Regions from separate parts of the Homo sapiens genome. Here region 1 is linked to region 2. The links come from fine-mapping of genetic effects on gene expression. A gene starts in region 2. The other region holds a variant in brackets. All regions are shown on one strand. Distances are from middle to middle.

The links. PIP is the estimated chance that this variant, and not a neighbour inherited with it, causes the effect.
Region 1: its variant is the best candidate, but not a certain one, in a credible set for the expression of PLSCR4 in sigmoid colon (GTEx, PIP 0.86).

What each region holds. Positions count from the first base shown.
Region 1 is chr3:146,217,048-146,226,201 of GRCh38, reverse strand. It overlaps PLSCR4 (phospholipid scramblase 4), which reads left to right. Exons shown (of 9, transcript NM_020353.3): 2 at 4,110-4,137; 3 at 5,277-5,387. The coding sequence starts at 4,131. Among named protein-coding and RNA genes, the nearest start is that of PLSCR4, 29 kb to the left of the region's middle. The variant C/T (reference allele first, on the strand shown) is at 3,926.
Region 2 is chr3:146,245,839-146,254,992 of GRCh38, reverse strand. PLSCR4 (phospholipid scramblase 4) reads left to right here and starts at 3,888. Exons shown (of 9, transcript NM_020353.3): 1 at 3,888-4,033.

The DNA of each region.
Region 1 (9,154 bases), 29 kb after region 2:
ACCCTAATAGAATTTTAATGTTGGCAGGAACTTAGGGTTCCTTGTGGGCCACAGCTAAACAGCCACCCCTCATCACTTCTTTACACATAACCCTTTTCTGAAATTTTGTGTTTTTAATTCCCTAGCATTTCTTTAAAGCTTTCCTCTATATATTTATCAGATGAAGTATTTTGTTTAGAATTCCTGCTACTGAACATTCTTACGTGGAATCATACTGCGAGGTGACAGTGTGCTGGCAGTCCTCAGAGCCCTCGCTCTCGGCACCTCCTCTGCCTGGGCTCCCACTTCGGCGGCATTTGAGGAGCCCTTCAGCCCACCACTGCACTGTGGGAGCCCCTTTCTGGGCTGGCCAAGGCTGGAGCCCACTCCCTCAGCTTGCAGGGAGGTGTGGAGGGAGAGGCGCCAGCGGCAACCGCGTGCGGCGCTTGCGGGCCAGCTGGAGTTCCGGGTGGGCGTCGGCTTGGCGGGCCCCACACTCGGAGCAGTCGGCCAGCCCTGCTGGCCCCGGGCAATGAGGGACTTAGCTCCTGGGCCAGTGGCTGCGGAGGGTGTAGTGAGTCCTCCAGCAGTGCCAGCCCACCGGTGCTGTGCTCGATTTCTCACCAAGCCTTAGCTGCCTTCCTGCGGGGCGGGGCTCGGGACCTGCTGCCTGCCATGCCTGAGCCTCCCACCCCCTCCATGGGCTCCTGTGCGGCCCGAGCCTCCCCGACGAGCACCACCCCCTGCTCCACCGCACCCAGTCCCATCGACCACCCAAGGGCTGAGGAGTGCAAGCGCATGGCACGGGACTGGCAGGCAGCTCCACCTGCAGCCCTGCTGCGGGATCCACTAGGTGAAGCCAGCTGTGCTCCTGAGTCTGGTGGGGAAGTGGAGAGTCTTTATGTCTAGCTCAGGGATTATAAATACACCAATCAGCACCCTGTGTTTAGCTGAAGGTTTGTGAGTGCACCAATGGACACTCTGTAACTAGCTGCTCTGGTGGGGCCTTGGAGAACCTTTATGTCTAGCTCAGGGATTGTAAATACACCAATCAGCACCCTGTGTTTAGCTCAAGGTTTGTGAGTGCACCAATGGACACTCTGTATCTAGCTGCTTTGGTGGGGCCTTGGAGAACCTTTATGTCTATCTCAGGGATTGTAAATACACCAATTGGCACTCTGTATTTAGCTCAAGGTTTGTAAATACACCAATCAGCACCCTGTGTTTAGCTCAAGGTTTGTGAGTGCACCAATCGACACTCTGTATCTAGCTGCTCTGGTGGGGCCTTGGAGAACCTTTGTGTCCATACTCTGTATCTAACTAATCTGATGGGGACGTGGAGAACCTTTGTGTCCATACTCTGTATCTAACTAATCTGATGGGGACGTGGAGAACCTTTGTATCTAGCGCAGGGATTGTAAATGCACCAATCAGTACCCTGTCAAAACAGGCCACTCGGCTCTACCAATCAGCAGGGTGTGGGTGGGGCCAGATAAGAGAATAAAAGCAGGCTGCCCGAGCCAGCATTGGCAACCCGCTCGGGTCCCCTTCCACACTGTGGAAGCTTTTTTTCTTTTGCTGTTTGCAATAAATCTTGCTGCTGCTCACTGTTTGGGTCCACACTGCTTTTATGAGCTGTAACACTCACCGCGAAGGTCTGCAGCTTCACTCCTGAGCCAGCGAGACCACGAACCCACCAGAAGGAAGAAACTCCGAATACATCGGAACATAAGAAGGAACAAACTCCAGATGCGCCACCTTAAGAGCTGTAACACTCACCGCGAGGGTCCGCGGCTTCGTTCTTGAAGTCAGTGAGACCAAGAACCCACCAATTCTGGACACAATACTACATGTATTCTCCAGTGATTTGCTTTTTCTGTTGTGCTATAATTTTGAGATACATCTCTGTCCACGTGCACAGCTATAATTTGTTTTCACTACAGGATATTATTGTATCATGTGAATGTACCAGAATTTATTTATTCAGTCTACCATTGATGGACATTAGGCAAGTTTTCATTCTTTTAAATATGAATAGTGTTATCAAGAACATTCTTGTCTATATCCTGTGTGCATGTGCAAGAGTCACTTCCAGGTACATAACTAGGAGTGTCTAAATTTCTAGAAAGCTGTAGTCATTTTCCTTAACAACAGGGATTACCATCATTAAGGAATATGACTAACCCCTTGAACTCCTTTTACTGGCCCAGAATTGGGTCTGACTTTTTGGTATGCCCCAGAATAAATAAATAAATAAATAAATATTTATTATTTATAATTATTATATATTTGTATTATTTTATATTTAAATATTAATATATTTAAAATATAAATGTAAAAATATATAATATATATTAAATATATATTTAAAACATTTTTACATAATATATATTATATAAAAGTAAATATATATGTTTTAAAATATATTTATATGTATTTTTTAAGCTTGGAGACACATAGGGCACCGTACAACAAACTCCAGCTCCAGAGGTGAGTGGAGATGGTCCAAGACTGGTTAAACTTTCACCCGTCTTGGCAAGACAATCATTTCAGCTGGGAATCTGCATACTGGCTCGTACCATGGCAGTTTTCATTGAGTCAGCTCAGTGTCCATATTGATGACTCACTAATACGTTGTTTGAATGCTTTTTTGACCTACTCTAACTTGATACTTTTTTACTCCACTTGGACAACGCAAATGACTGTATTCTTATGAACATGATCACATATTGAAAAGTACATAGGCTTAGGATTTAGAAGCACTTGCCTTTAGCAGGGTTGGCCATTTACACATTAGAGAGTTGTTATAATCAGAGATATGTGAAAAGAATTGGGCCCTTTGCCTAACACTTGATAAGCATTCAGTAAATTATAGCCTTTGTTGATACTCTTTTTGTTATTTGTCATTACTCAGAACTCAGAAATTCAGATATATTGAAATTCCCTTCTCAAATAATAGCCTTTTTTTTGCCTGACTGAATTCAGAAAAATTTACCTTCACCCTCATTCCTTGTTTCAAATCTCGTCTCAACTTCTAGTCTTCTTCTTTGAGTTATTCTCATAATGTTCCCATACATATTTTTAATTTAAATGTTTAACTTCTTTTAGTCTCTTCTTAAACATGCCCCAGTCTAAACTTTCAATTCTTACCCTCCTCCATCCCCACTATTCCCCCACTATCCTCCTCTCTAGTTTTGTTAATAGGATCACCGTCAACTCAGTTACCTTGGGCTATGACTCAGAACCCTCTTCCACTCCTCTCTTTACCTTAGTCCATCAGCGACTCCTGGAGGCCCTGCTTCCAAACCGTATCATGCCTCTGAACACTCCTAACCTGCAGTGTCACCTCCCCCATCTAAGCTGGTGTCAGCTCTCACCTGGATTGCTGCTGCCATCCCTCACTGCTCCCTGCTTCTACTCTTGCTCTCATTGTATGATGTCGGTCAGATCTGATCACTCCACCGACTGAATCCTCCAGACTTCCCAGTTGCAAATACCAAAAATGCCAAACCCCTTGCCATGGCCTTCAGATGAGATCAGACCTTTATCTGCATGTCTTACCTCAGTTCGCTTCACTCACTGTGGCCCAGTCACTCCTAAACCACTTTCTCTTTTCCTCCCTTCAGTATCCCATGCTCACTGCCATCTCTGACCCTTTGCACTAATTTCCTATCTTCCTGGAACTCTCTTCCCACAATTGTAGTGTGATGTTTATTTTTCATAGTTGAAACAGCTCAAAGGTCACTTCCTGAGACAGGCTTTCCCTGACTCTCCTAGAACTTACCATCCGTGTTTCTCTTAAGCTTGTTACATTGTTTTCCTCATAACTGTACTATCTAACGTTAAACTTTAACATTTCTTGACTTTTTTTAAATCTCATTCTACTACAATATAAACTGCAGCACAGTAGGTGGCAGAGTGTCTGTCTGCTTCATTGCTGTACTCT[C/T]AACATCTGTATTAGTGCCTCGTACATAATAGGTGCTCAATAAGTATTTTTTTAATTAATGAAGGGACAAATGTAAGGTAACTGGAGGTTAAAAAAATTACAGAAATCCTTACCTGTGTTACTGAGTAGCAATACTATTTATTATGTATGTATTTTAAAGGCATTAACATTTTTTATTTTTCAGGATTAATTGGAATTCTTCAAAATGTCAGGTAAGTTTTTGTGAATAAATTTGAATATGCTTTATTTTCAAATGTGAATTTTGTGATTATTTTCCCTAAAGGGGGACTTTATTTCGATTTTTTTTTGTTTAACATTTGGCAAATATAAATACGTGTGTGTGTTTGCATATATATATGTATGTATATATTTGTTATTTATGTATATAGACATTCCTATCATTGTCAGAAAAAGATTAAAAAGGGACTTACAGTGGGACACATATCTACTGAATAATCTTTGAAGTTTGTGGGGAAAATTAGGTAATAAAAAAAGCAAGATTTGCAAAGCAGTTCTGCAAAGAGAGGTTGTAGTAATAAAGAGCCTGTGGCAAGGTCCTGCCTTGGTAGAGGAGGATGAAAGTAGGCCTTGTATTTTCTAGTAACTTACATAAAGAGAGAAAAACCACATTTATGGGATTTTTGTTTGCTAGGAGATAAAAGTCAACTGGTTGTTTAGGAAACTCAGCTTTTTTTTGTAGTAAGCAGAGAGAGAAATTAGTCTCTAATCTCAATAAGAAGACAAGGTACAACATCATGAAACTGACTTCAGTACCTCCCTTGCAGCAATTACTGTGACCTAGATTGCTTTTAGAAAGAATACAGTGAAAATGTGAGTCACTGGAGATGTAGACTAAACTATTGCTAATTCAGTTGTGTGTGACACCACTGTTTATTAAACCATTATTTGTTTATGGTGTTATGTTGTGAATCTTTTTAGACAGCACTTTCCAAAAATAATTAGGAAAAAAAATCAACTTCACTCTATAAATGCTTGTGTTCTCCATATTATGTAAAGGGAAAAATAATTTTTGCTATTATGCCAGGAATTTACTTTGTAGATAAGAGTTAGCATCGGGGCAGTTGAACCACTAGTATGAAAGCTCATTGCTTTGATCACAAGCATAATATAATTGTTTAGTTCTATTTTTAAATCTATGTTCAGTTTGAAAATTCATGAAATTTATTAATAGTGTCTAATATATGATGAATTCTTTCTTTAAAAAATATAGGAGTGTATTTTCCAGTTGATTATATTTCTTGATGCATTCCCATAAGAAAGGAAAAAGAATACATTTTGTCATTATATTATTGTTTCCTTTGTAAGTCATGTTCCCTGTCTTCCCCTGAAGGTGTGGTACCCACAGCCCCTGAACAGCCTGCAGGTGAAATGGAAAATCAAACAAAACCACCAGATCCAAGGCCTGATGCTCCTCCTGAATACAATTCTCATTTTTTACCAGGTGGGTTAAATATTCATAAAAGATATTCTCCTTTGCTAAAAACCATACTAATGATTAAAATTGCTTTTTAAGCGAACAAATTAATTGACTGATTTAATAAGTAAATAAATATTGGATGCCAATAGGGTGCCACATAGTTTACTATATGTCAGTTAGAATATATTCCTGTAGCCATAGGATTTACAGGCTTTTAGATGGAAGTTGTGCAAATATTGATGACATTCTCTCCATTCTATATGGAGATATGAAGAGAGTGTTGTAAGGACACAGAAGACAGTATTTGACATTGCCAGGGATTTGAGGAAAGCCCTGACTAAGGAGGTCAAGTTTTGCTGTCATGATAAAAATTTCACAAGCAAAGAAAAGGGGGAAAGGACTATCCTTAGCAGAAAGAATCATATGTCCGTAAGTACAGGGTCATGAAAATCTGGTATGAGGCATGCATGAGACACATGGAAGATGTGCAGAGAAATGGAAGTGAATGGCCATGGGTGCTGATTAAGGAGCTTATCTTTCTGGCAAATATTTTTGTAAGTCTGAGTGCACTACTGGTGATGTCTTGGGAGAATGAATACTTTATACAGTGCTAGTGTGAATTTGAGATATTATGATTGTTAGAAAACAATTTGGCCAAGTTTAAAATTTTAAAAATTAAAAGTGCCCTTACTTTTGGCCAAGGAAATAGTTAGTATTGTCTTTAAACACATTTTAATGACTTACATAATGATGTAGACACTGTAGTAATATTTTTTTAAAATACATATTTAAGCGTATATTTAGAAGTAGAAACCATTGTGTTATGCTCTGAAGGGGGAAAAGAAACCCTGCTATGTACAAGATAATGGCACAAGATAATGGCAAAAGTTTTTTTTTTGAGATGGAGTTTCAGTCTTGTTGCCCAGGCTGGAGTGCAATGGTGCGATCTTGGCTCACCACAACCTCCACCTCCCAGGTTCAAGTGATTCTCCTGCATCAGCTTTCGGAGTAGCTGGGATCACAGGCATGCACCACCACGCCCGGCTAATTTTTGTTTTTTATTTTTTGTTCTTTGTTTTTTGTTTGTAGAGACAAGGTTTTTCCATGTTGGTCAGGCTGGTCTCGAAGTCCCGACCTCAGGTGATCCACCTGCCTCAGTGTCCCAAAGTGCTGGGATTACAGGTGTGAGCCACCGTGCCCGGCCAAAGGTTTTTTTTGGCTCTAGGCATATGATCCATACAGCTCAGGTGGCTTCTGCACCTACAGTGTTTTCTGAAAGCATCAGGATTTCCTTTTTTCTCTTCCTAATGTGTATGTGTGTTATGAGGATAAAATGCATTATAACATACTGCATTAATAGCGCAACCTTTCCTAAATCCAAGGTATTAAAAATTAAATTATTAAATTATAATCATGCTTTATCTATCGTTTCTCTATATGTCACTTCAGTGACTTCCAACATGATATACAAGATCTATCTTATATTTACCAATTACTCTATATCCAAAAACCTAGACCCTACTAGAACAGAAACTTCACCATTTCTGAGAAAAACCTTGGTTATACATCATGTTCTCATCTGATAAAGCGTATGTCTATTCTTCTGTATATCAATAATTCAGCAAGAGAGTAGGCTACATCCTTCAAATTAAATGACAAGGTAAGTTGTAAAAATATTATAGTGCAGACCACACAACTAATGAATTTTCAGTTATAAAATATAGCAAAATTTCGCTCTGATCGCCACCTGGTGGCTGGACTATAAACTTACGAAGACTGACAAAAATTGTCTCTGTGACTCAAATTAAGAATCTTGAAATCTGTACTTGAATTATGTAGTGTTAATGAATTTATCCCAATTTCTTTACATAATTCCAATTTGCATTATGGTGTTGGATATGTGTTCCCACAAAAATAATTTTATCCACTATTCTTGTTTAAGAGAATAAAGAAACCTTTGTTATATTTAGTATATTTAAAGAGAAAATGGCATGATTTCCTGATGTTCAAAATAACTAAAAAAACTCAAATCCTATCAGACAGTGTGTCTTACACCAGTATTGGTAGGACAACGCTCCGTAACAGAGGTCTTTATTTACGTAAGTCTGAGATGCTATAGTTACACAAAGTTAAACATATTTTGTTTTGTTTTGCTTTGTTTTCCTGCAGAAGCAATCAGAACTCTTATGAAAACTTCAAAGCTTAGAAGAAAGTATAATATACCAATTTCCCACATATAATTTCATCATATGTTTTCCTTCTTTTATCTCTGGATAATACATACTTATAACAAAAATTGTTCAATTACATAAATATGTATTTAATTTTAAAATAAATATAAATTTAATTTTAAAAAATATAATCTCTATACGAATAGCCTCAAAATCTAAATGGCAATTTTTTTCTGATTTATTGATCTTCAAATTTTATAACATGAGGTGCTTTTATATTAAAAGTACATGGTAAATTAATCATTAACTCATTGAAGTGATATAATGATTAATATTCTTGAGATAATTCATATGATTTTTAGTTACATTGTTATTTTTAATAATAGTTAAAAAAAGAAGGTATGGATATCTGATTTCTAGTCCAATTCGGGTACTCTTAAATACAATTCTTAAAGGAATTAAAGTATATTCTTCATAACAAACTTAAATACATACTTACCTTCACTTTTTTCCAAATACGTTATACTTTTTTTCTCACTTAACTCTCATTTGACATTGTTTCCTGTTACCATTATTTTCCCTTTAGTCTGCTTACTGTCAGTTTCTGTCAAAAACTGTGTCCCTACTCTTAAAAAGTGCTGTTCTCAAAATTATTTGGTCTACTCCCCTGGTTTTCCCTGCCCTTCCCCATCTCCTTCTCTCTCCTCTCCCAGTCACCCTTCCTTTTACACACTCTTCTAAGTGATCTTGTTAATACTGAAGGTTTCCTTTTCCTTCATCACTTATGAAATACATATCCACAGATCATGTCAGTCTGATAGTCTCTAAACTTGCACTTCCAACCACCTATAGACTGCTTCTCATGAAAGACCATTGAATCTCAAACTCAATGATCACCAGCCCAACTTTGTTATCTTGCTTCTAAACTCTATTTTCTTTCTCCATTCTTCCCATACACTGGAGGCCTGTAGGATCCCAAGCCAGAAACTTGAGAATCTTTTCTCATATCCAGTCCACTTCAAAGTCAATGTTGTATCTTAAATGTCAATTACCATTTCTCCACTCTCTGCTCCTTTCACCAAAATCAGCCTTCCTTGCCTTCTAGCCAGACCCTTGCAAGTACTTCCTGCCTAATCTGACCTCATATATAAAGAATTCTAAATGTAAAATGAATCACTTTACTTTCCATTTGATTGGCATAAAGTTCAAGGTCTTTCATAATCTTCATCCTATCTTTCTAGCCTTGTCTGCTAAATCTCCACACACAGCAGTTCGTCCTGCAGTAGTGAGCCTCCTCTATGCACCTGCCTGTTCTTGTCCGTTTGCCTGTAAAACCTTTCCCCATCATGGAGATGCTGGCTAGGTCTAGTGTGTTAGCATCTATATCGTAGTATACCTTCTCTGCATAGGTTAGGTACCCCTCCTGTCTAATCCCTTAACATGCTATGCATCTACCTATGATTATGTCAATTACTTGCTTCGTGACAACCATTCACCTTTTCTTATACATCTTTGTAGCCTCCACAGAACTTGCTGCCCTTGGAGACAGGCATGCATTTGAATGTCTTTCTGTCTTATATTTCTAGCAGCAAGCACAGAAGCTGGTCCTTGAAATGGGCT
Region 2 (9,154 bases):
TGTACAGGAAGCACTTGAGACTGGGTAATTTATAAAGAAAAGAGGTTTAATTGGCTCTGCAGGCTGTACAGGTTTAAATGGTTCTGCAGGCTGCACAGGAAGCACAGTGATACCATCTGCCTCTAGTGAGGCATCAAGAAGCTTACAATCACGGCAGAAAGCAAACGGGGAGCAGGTGTATTAATGGCAAGAGCTGGAGTGAGACAGAGAGGGGAGAGGACACACTCTTTTAAATAACCAGATCTCACAGGAACTACCAGAGCAAGAACACACTCATCACTAAGGCAATGGCACTAAGCCATTCACAGGAGATTCTCCCTTATAATCCAAACACCTCCCAACAGGCCACCTTTAACACTGGGGATTACATTTCAACATGAAATTTGGGAGGGACACAGATCCAAACCTTATCAAACAGTTATTATAAGTTAAAAAGTTAAGAAAATGATGGTCTTAGTGAATGAACAGATGTGAAATCTCATCAAAAGACATGGAAGCTGCACAAATGAACCAAATAGAAATACTAGCACTGAAAAGTGTTAATACTGTAATGGACTTAACAGTAGATTGAAATAAGGGTCAGCATATTTTTGAGACGGATCCATAGAAATTATTTAACTTAAAGAGAAAAAAATCAAAAAAATGTAAATAAAGTCTTGGTGAGCTGTGAGTCAGTATCATATGGTCCAACATACAATTAATTGAACTGAATTTCCAGAAGGAGAAGAGAGAGAAATGGGTATGGTGCAGTAAAGAAATAATGACTGCAAGTTTTTCAAATTTTGTGAATAATATCTACTTATGTATCTGTGAAACTCAGAAAACCACAGTAGAATACAGAAAGAAGCATACATCATAGACTAACTGCAGAAAAACCAATGATAAAAAGTTATTCTTAAAACCAACAATATGCATTCTGTCAGATAAAAATGGAGGTCAAAATTGTTGGGGAATAAAATAAAAAAAATCTGTACACCCAGAATTCTATAACCAGTAAAAATATCATTACAAAATTCATACAAAATAAAAACATTTTTAGATTTAAAAATCTAAAAAGATTTTGTCTGTAGCTGTTCTGCACTACAAGAAATACTAAAGGGACTAGGTATAGTGGCTCACACCTGTATCCCAGCACTTTGGTAGGTCAAGGCAGGCAGACTGCTTGAATCCAGGAGTTTTAGACCAGTCCATGTAACAAAGCCAAATCTTGTCTCCCCCCTCCAAAAAAAAAAAAAAAAATTAGCTGGGCATGGTGGCATGTGCCTGTAATCTCAGCTACTTGGGACGCTGAGGTGGAAGAATCACCTGAGCCCAGGAGGTCGAGGCCGCAGTGGGCTGAGGTTGTGCCACTGTACTCCAGCCTAGGCAACCAGAGTGAGACACTGTCTCAAAAATAACAAGAACTACTATAGGAAAGTCTCTAGCCTGAAGGTAAGTGATAATAGGTGAAATTAAGATCTATAAGAAAAAAAACGAGGAGCACAGGAAATTGTGTATATGTGGAAATATAGAAAAGCTATTTTCTTCTTTTAATTTCTGTAAAAGACAATGCACTAGTTAAGCAAAACTTAAAACATTTTGTTGTGTAAAGTCTATAATTAATGGGTATGTAAAATCTGATAGCATTTGCACATACAATTGAGGAACTGTAAAGTAATTATAAATTTCTTAACTTTATGTGAAGTGGTACATTATTAACTCTAAGTAGACTGTGGTAACCTAAGAACAACCAGTGAAAAGGAAATAACACGAAGAAATACACTTGGAGCAACAGAGCAACTAAAATGGGATTAGTATAAAAAGTAGTTAATTTGTCATCCCTCGAAATGTCCAGGTTGGAAAGTCATCAGATCAGGAAATTTCAGAAAAACAGGAAATTGAGTTCTTCTTCTTCCCCTCGAAAGTTGTGATTTGGGGTATATGACATACTTGATTTTATTTTAATCCCTCAAAGCAATATGTTTCACAAGACATGTTTTGCTCTTGAAATTTTTGGTATCTTCACGTGGCCACTGTGGATGTTTACATTCATAAGCTCAATTACTTGGCCTCTTTCATAAATTTTAAACAAAGGTAACATGCCGAGACCAGCTCAGTCGGGGAGACCCTAACCCAGCGGCGCTAGAGGAATTAAAGACACACACACAGAAATATAGAGGTGTCAAGTGGGAAATCAGGGGTGTCATAGCCTTCAGAGCTGACACCCCCGAACAGAGATTTACCCACGTATTAACAGCAAACCAGTCATTAGCATTGTTTCTATAGATGTTAAATTAACTAAAAGTATCCCTTAAGGGAAACGAAGGGATGGGCCGGATTAACTGCAGCAGGAACACGCCCTTAAGACACAGACCGCTCATGCTCATTGTTTGTGGCTTAACAATGCCTTTAAGCGGTTTTCGCCCTGAGCGGGCCAGGTGTTCCTCACCCTCACTCCCGTAAACCCACAACCTTCCAGCTTGGGCATTAGGGCCATTATGAACATGTTACAGTGCTGCAGAGATTTTGTTTATGGCCAGTCTTGGGGCCAGTTTATGGCCAGATTTTGGGGGGCTTGCTCCCAACAGTAACATATGCTATTATAATTTAGTTTCACCACCAGTTTCTTTGTTTTATGCTTTCAGTAAAACACTATGTCTGCATCTGAGAAATGTTCTGTGCAATTATTACTGAGAAGAACAGTATGAATTTTTTAATCTATTCTCACATGAATATTAACAAATAACACACATACAAAGAAAAATATAAAATTCTAGAACTCCACTCCCACATCCCTTCCCCTTTCCAACCTTCTCCCACAATGGGGTTCTGCCAAGTACTCCTCAGAGCTTAATCAAGCTTACTTCTGTCCAGTTCTGATTCTTTATAAGGTCAGAGGACCTTCAGTTCTCCCACTTCCTGTCAGTGTATTGTGCTTCTCTCCAAGCACCACCACAGAACTGAATCCCATTGGTCTGAAAGAAATATTTGTGCCTAACAGTAATAAGCAAATGGCATTTTTCTCCCAATGTCAGAAAACATGGGCAACCTGCTCCCTTTCCCCTTTATTGGCGTCTCTCCCGCCTTCCCTCCAAGATCAAATTGGCCTCCCCCAATTCTGTGGAAAAGAAAACAGAATTTCTGGGCCCTATGCCCAAGTGTTTCCAGCCAGCACGGCATTGCCAAGGCTAAATCACCAAGCCAAGGACCTGGGGGTGGGCGCAAATGCAAATCAAAAAGGCTCTTGAGGCCGGGTGCAGTGGCTCACGCCTGTAATCCCAGCACTTTTGGAGGCCGAGGCGGGCGGATCACGAGGTCAGGAGATCGAAACCATCCTGGCTAACACGGTGAAACCCCGTCTCTAGTAAAAAATACAAAAAATTAGCCGGGCGTGGTGGCGGGCGCCTGTAGTCCCAGCTGCTAGGGAGGCTGAGGCAGGAGAATGGCCTGAACCTGGGAGGCGGAGCTTGCAGTGAGCCGAGATCGCGCCACTGCACTCCAGCCTGGGCGACAGAGTGAGACTCCGTATCAAAAATAAAAATAAAAAAATAAAAAAGGCTCTTGAGAAAGAGGGGTTTCTTCATTTTCTCTCTAGGCGCAGTAATCTATGAACAAAGCTCCCTTTCCCAGGCCCTGCAACCTGCCCCTCTGATTGGAAGTGACCGTGGGCTGGCTTTTATCTTTTCTTTCACCTCTTATTAGAGTAGTGACAACTTATTTTCTTCATTTCTTCCTCCCCCTCGGCTTTTAGGTTTCAGCGGACTTCAGGGTGCCCCACCTCTTCCAGGAAGACGCTCCCCCGGGCTGGCGGCTCTCCCAGCGCGGGGCGGGGTCCGAGACGGGGAAGCCGCGCGCGGGGAAGGAGGGTCCAGGCGTGCCGGACCCGCCCCCAGAACCCGCGCCTAGCCCTCCCTTCCGCGCGCTTACTTTGTTTATAACTTGAAAAATCCTCTCCGTCTCCCTTCCCTGCCTCCTTTCCTTTCCCTTTCCTCTGCCAGTACAACTAGACCCGGCGTCTGGCGTCCCCGGTGCCCAGCATTCTGCGGGGCAGGCGGTGAGTGGGGCTGGACAGGCGGGCGCAGAGCAGGACAGGGTGGCGCGGGCGCCCGGGCTGCGGGGCCGAGGGCGTCGTCAGGGGAGGCCCGAGGCCGCGGTGCCTGCGGGCAGGCGCGGAGGTTGCGCGGCGTCCTGCGCTAGCAGTTCCCGGACACTGCGCTCGCGTCGCATCCTCAGGTGGTTGCAGAAGTTCCGTGGTGTCGGGCGCGCGTCTGCACTGCAGACGCAGAGGGTTTGGGAGCGAGCAGTTTCCTGCCCAGGGATGGGGGTCCTGGCTGCACTTCACGGGGGCGGCCCTTTCGTTTCGCTCTGCGTGACAGGTCTCGCTTGATTGGGTTTCTCATGGGTCTCTGGCGTTTCTACGGCGCGGCTCTCACGGACTCAGGCCAGGCCACTCGCAGGTAAAAACGCTATTTATAGTAACTTTTTAATTGCTCAGCGAGTGGAGGCGGTGACAGGAGAGAATCCCTCTCTCTTATTTCCAATTCTGGCAAACTGGGGCGATTTGGGGCTGTGCTTGATTTGTTTTTAAAAACGTTCATATTTAAAGACTTAGGATTTTATTTTGTGGCCTTATCTTCTCTTAGGATCTACAATTTAGTTTTTAATTTTATACTGCATTTAGAATGGAGCCACCAAAATAAGTACTTGTGAAGATATAATGCACCAAACTTGATACTGCTTAAAGGGGAATAGATTGCCTAATTTAAATTGCATTCTCCTGTAATAGTAATAGAACACAACCTCCATCTGTCTATCTGCTCTCATGGATAGCTGTGAAATACTAGCAGCATTTCCATTAAATTTGAAAAAGACAAGAATGCTAATCATTACACTCTGTGACATGGTTGTGAATTCTATGGGCGAGTGACAACAGGTAGGGGAACATATTATCACTTTATGCATGATGTGAGTGTATACCTTAATGTCCATAGGAAACACTGAAATTTGATGGGAAGCATAAGTGAATTTATCAAAGTTTCCAATTGCATCATACTTAATTTATAGAAGTCAGTTGATGTTTATACATAAACTAGATAATACAGTAAAATAAAGTAAAATTCAGTTTGGCATGAAATAACACACAATTGAGAAATTATTTTTAAGAAGATATAAAAAGGTATGTATGAGAATCCAATAAAATACATAACATTCTTCTAGGTAAAGATATCATTTCTCTAAAACAACGTATAAGTAGAATCCTAACTGAATATTTTTGTTACTGTTTTTAACTGTACTGTTTAGCTCATGTGGAAGAACAAACATATTAACGTTATGTATAATATATTACAAATAATAAAATACAAAATATATAATTATGTCTTATTTTATATATTATATATGATTTTAACATTTAATATTATACATACACACATATATATAGTGGAGACTTCTTCATATAATAAAAGGTGTTACAAAACTGTGGTGATTAAAAGACAGTGCAGTAGACCTACTACCAGATGTGTAAATGAAACTGAAGAGACATGGAAGAATAAAAGGAAAGCTGGCATTTGATAAGCATACATTTTAAATCACTGGGTGGGAAGAAGAAATAACATTTAATTGAATGTACTTGGACAAGCAGGAATTTGTTTGGGAAACCTAATAATAAAACTGGAACTTTTCCTCACTGTTAATAGACAAATGTAGTCTAGATGGCTTACTAGTTTAAATCTAAACATATGCAGCCTAAAAAGGGAAAAAGAAAGCCTGAATAGATATTTGTGCACATTGCATGTGGGAAAAGCATTTCTAAGCATAATACAAAAACCTAGACCCATTTAGGGACATGATTTTTATTAACATTTGCATCCCCCAAAAAAGATACAAACTGCGGACATTGTTAATAGAAAAAAAAAGATAATTTTGCTAATATACCTAGAAATCTTATTAATGACCTTCAAAATCAATGACCCAGTTAAGGATAAAAAGAGTCAACTCAAAGCAAAAGAAATGCAAATAATAAGCAGAGTGAATACTGTTAGCCACACTAATTATCCAAAACATATATGAAGTAAGACATCAATTTTTGCATTAATTTTACAAATTTTGAAAGTCTGATAACTTTAGGTGTTGTTGAAAATGCAGTGAGGAAAATATAATTTTACAAACTTTTAGTGGAAATGTGAATTGGTGAAGCTGTTTTAGGGTTAAAGCTGTTCAGATTTACAAATGTTCATTTACTTAACTGGAATTTATCCAGCAAAACATGCTCCCAAGTGTACAAATAAAAATCTCTGTCAAAGATGTTTAAAGTAGGATTGTTTACAATGTAGAAAACATGGATACAGCTCTGTAGCCATTGATTGGGAATTGGTTACATAATGTATGGTATATTCAAAGGTGGAATAATATACAGTTTAAAACATTGTAGCTCTAAATGTTCTAACTTGGAAATATGTCCAAAACATAAAGTTAAAACACAAAATGAAACAACAAGTTGAAACACTGTGTGTGTGTGTGTGTGTCTGTGTGTGTGTAGTGTAGTAATTATATTTTTGTAAATAATTTGGAATATAGGCTGAATTATATTGTGAGTAGTGATGTTTTACACACAGCCGAATTATATTATTATGAGTAGTGATGTTGTTTTACACATTTCTATAATGTATGCGTGTGTATAAGGAAAAATTGATAGTGATAGTAATTTATACAGAACATTGCCTTCTTGAATATATTAGCTGTCATTTACTACAGAAGAAATATATTTCACAAAACCTTTCATATTGTCTCATTTTTTTTCTTTTATAAGTGTCCTCTTTCAGCTGCTTCCTTTAAAATCCCCTTCCTTAATATTGATGTTTATGATGTTTATTGCAAGAACAGCAGTGAAGAATTTTGCTTGAGGGATTTCACAACCAGTTAACTTTTATAAACAAAAAATACAGCAATGTTCATACTCATATGTTCACCAGCATTGTGCTAAAATTCATTTTTATAGTACTCATTCTTCAGGATGAAAGAGATAGATATGCTAGTCCTTAAAAAGAAAAACATCTAAAGTTGGAAAAAAATTGTTTTTAATTGCATGGTAAGGCTGGGTGGCGGTAGCTCACGCCCGTTATCACAGTACTTTGAGAGGCAGGGGTGGGCAGATTGTTTTAGCCCAGGAGTTTGAGAGCAGCCTGGGAAACATGGCGATACCCCACCTCTAAAAAAATTTAAAAATTAGCCAGGCATGGTGGCACCCACCTGTAGTGCCAGCTGCTCAGGAGGCTGAGGTAGGACAATTGATTGAGCCTGGGAGGTCAAGGCTGCAGTGAGCCATTATCATGCCACTGCACTCCAGCATGGGCAACAGAAAGAGACCCTGCCTCAAAAATAAAACTGCATGACAAAAATGCAGTGAAGACAAATGATAAGTTTTGAAAAGATAATTTTAATATAAAATTTTAATACCTTTCATATAAAGAAGACAAATGAAAAGCTAACAAAAATGAACAAATGACAAACAGGCAGTTCACAGAAATAGAGTTGCAAATTGCTTTCAAACAAATAATAAAAGTGGCTCAGCCTCCTCATTATGAGATATATGGAAAATAAAACCAATTTTTTTTTTTTATATATCAGATTGACTACTACAAAAATGTTGATAAAATACTGTATTAGGAATGTAACTTTTTGTCTGGGGTCTAAATTGATTCAAATTCTTTAGAGTGCAGTTTGATAGTATCTTTAAAAATGTACAAAACTTTGATCCATCAGTTCTGCTTCCAATAATTTAATGCACAGATCCACAGGAAGAAAATATTTTTTTCAGCATTTTTGGTAATAGCCTAAATTTGGAAACGATTTAACTTGTTGTCATTAGGCAGCCAGTTAAATACATTATGTTGCAGCCATTAAAAAGAATGAGGTTATATGGACTGAAATGTAATTAACATCAAGACATTTTAATAAATGAAAAGAAAAAGACACAGAAAAGTATATAGATGATTGCCATTTTATAAAAACTGTGTGTATTAGTTTATATATGCTTAGAAAATCTATTGGAGGAAAAAAAATCTAATGTCTGTGGTTGCCTTTTCAAATGGGAAATGGGAATTGGAGTAGGTGGGATTTTTTTGTATAAATGTATTGTGTAAATGTATGCACTGCCGACTCCTTGAATTATATTTGTGTTTGTTTGCACATAACATCTGTTTTTTAAAAGTCTGTTTTCATAAATGTAAAGTTTCTTATCAAAGTGACTTAACTGTATGCAACATGACATCTTGTTTTACTACAATTTTAAATACTAAAAGACTAGCTGTAAAATGACACAATGAGGCGTTCTTGGTAATCATAGTTGGCATGGTAATGTTTCCTTAATGTCTTATATAAACATCATGAGAATATTGTTCTGATATTTTTCTACTCTAAATAACAAAAACATTTCCCTTTTGAAAGCTAAAAAGGAGACACCTGATATTCTCTTTAAACAATTTGAACTAAATTAATATATTTAATAAAGGTTATGTATGGACTGTGGCTATCAATTTGCTTTCATTTAATCTTATCTTTTATTTTATATTAAAGCCAAATAGCTAACCTCCAAGATCCTTCACACTTGCTAAAAAGAATGAAATATTCTACCATACACTTTTTCTTTTGAAGGAGTCATGATGTTAATAAAATAATAAATATATTGATATAGGTTATAAAAACAACACAATAAAAATCTTAGGTTTTGCCCTTGTAATTTGTTGAACATTAATCACTCCCTAAGTTTCTTCTAGAATTGATTTTATGCAAAGATACAATTAAATACATATATGTTAACATGTAATTATAATGAAGATACTGTGTATCTATGGGACATTCCTGCTGCAGCATATTTTATCAACATGGACCTAGGTTTATCTTTTGTGCAAGCCTGGAATTCGTTTCTCTAATTTCAGCCCATGTGACAGAAACTTACTAAGTTTACAAGATGTCTACAGAAATGACTGAATCCTTCAGTCATTGGACTTTAATCCACTCATATTGAGCCCACTGAACTATCCAGTTCCCTATAGCCAAGAAACCCATAAAAGTAATTAACACAGTCCACCATAGGAGCCAAGAAATTTGGCTTAAAGTCTATAAAGAGGATTGTACTTGGAAAGGTGTGCATAATATTTCCTCTTTGATGAACATG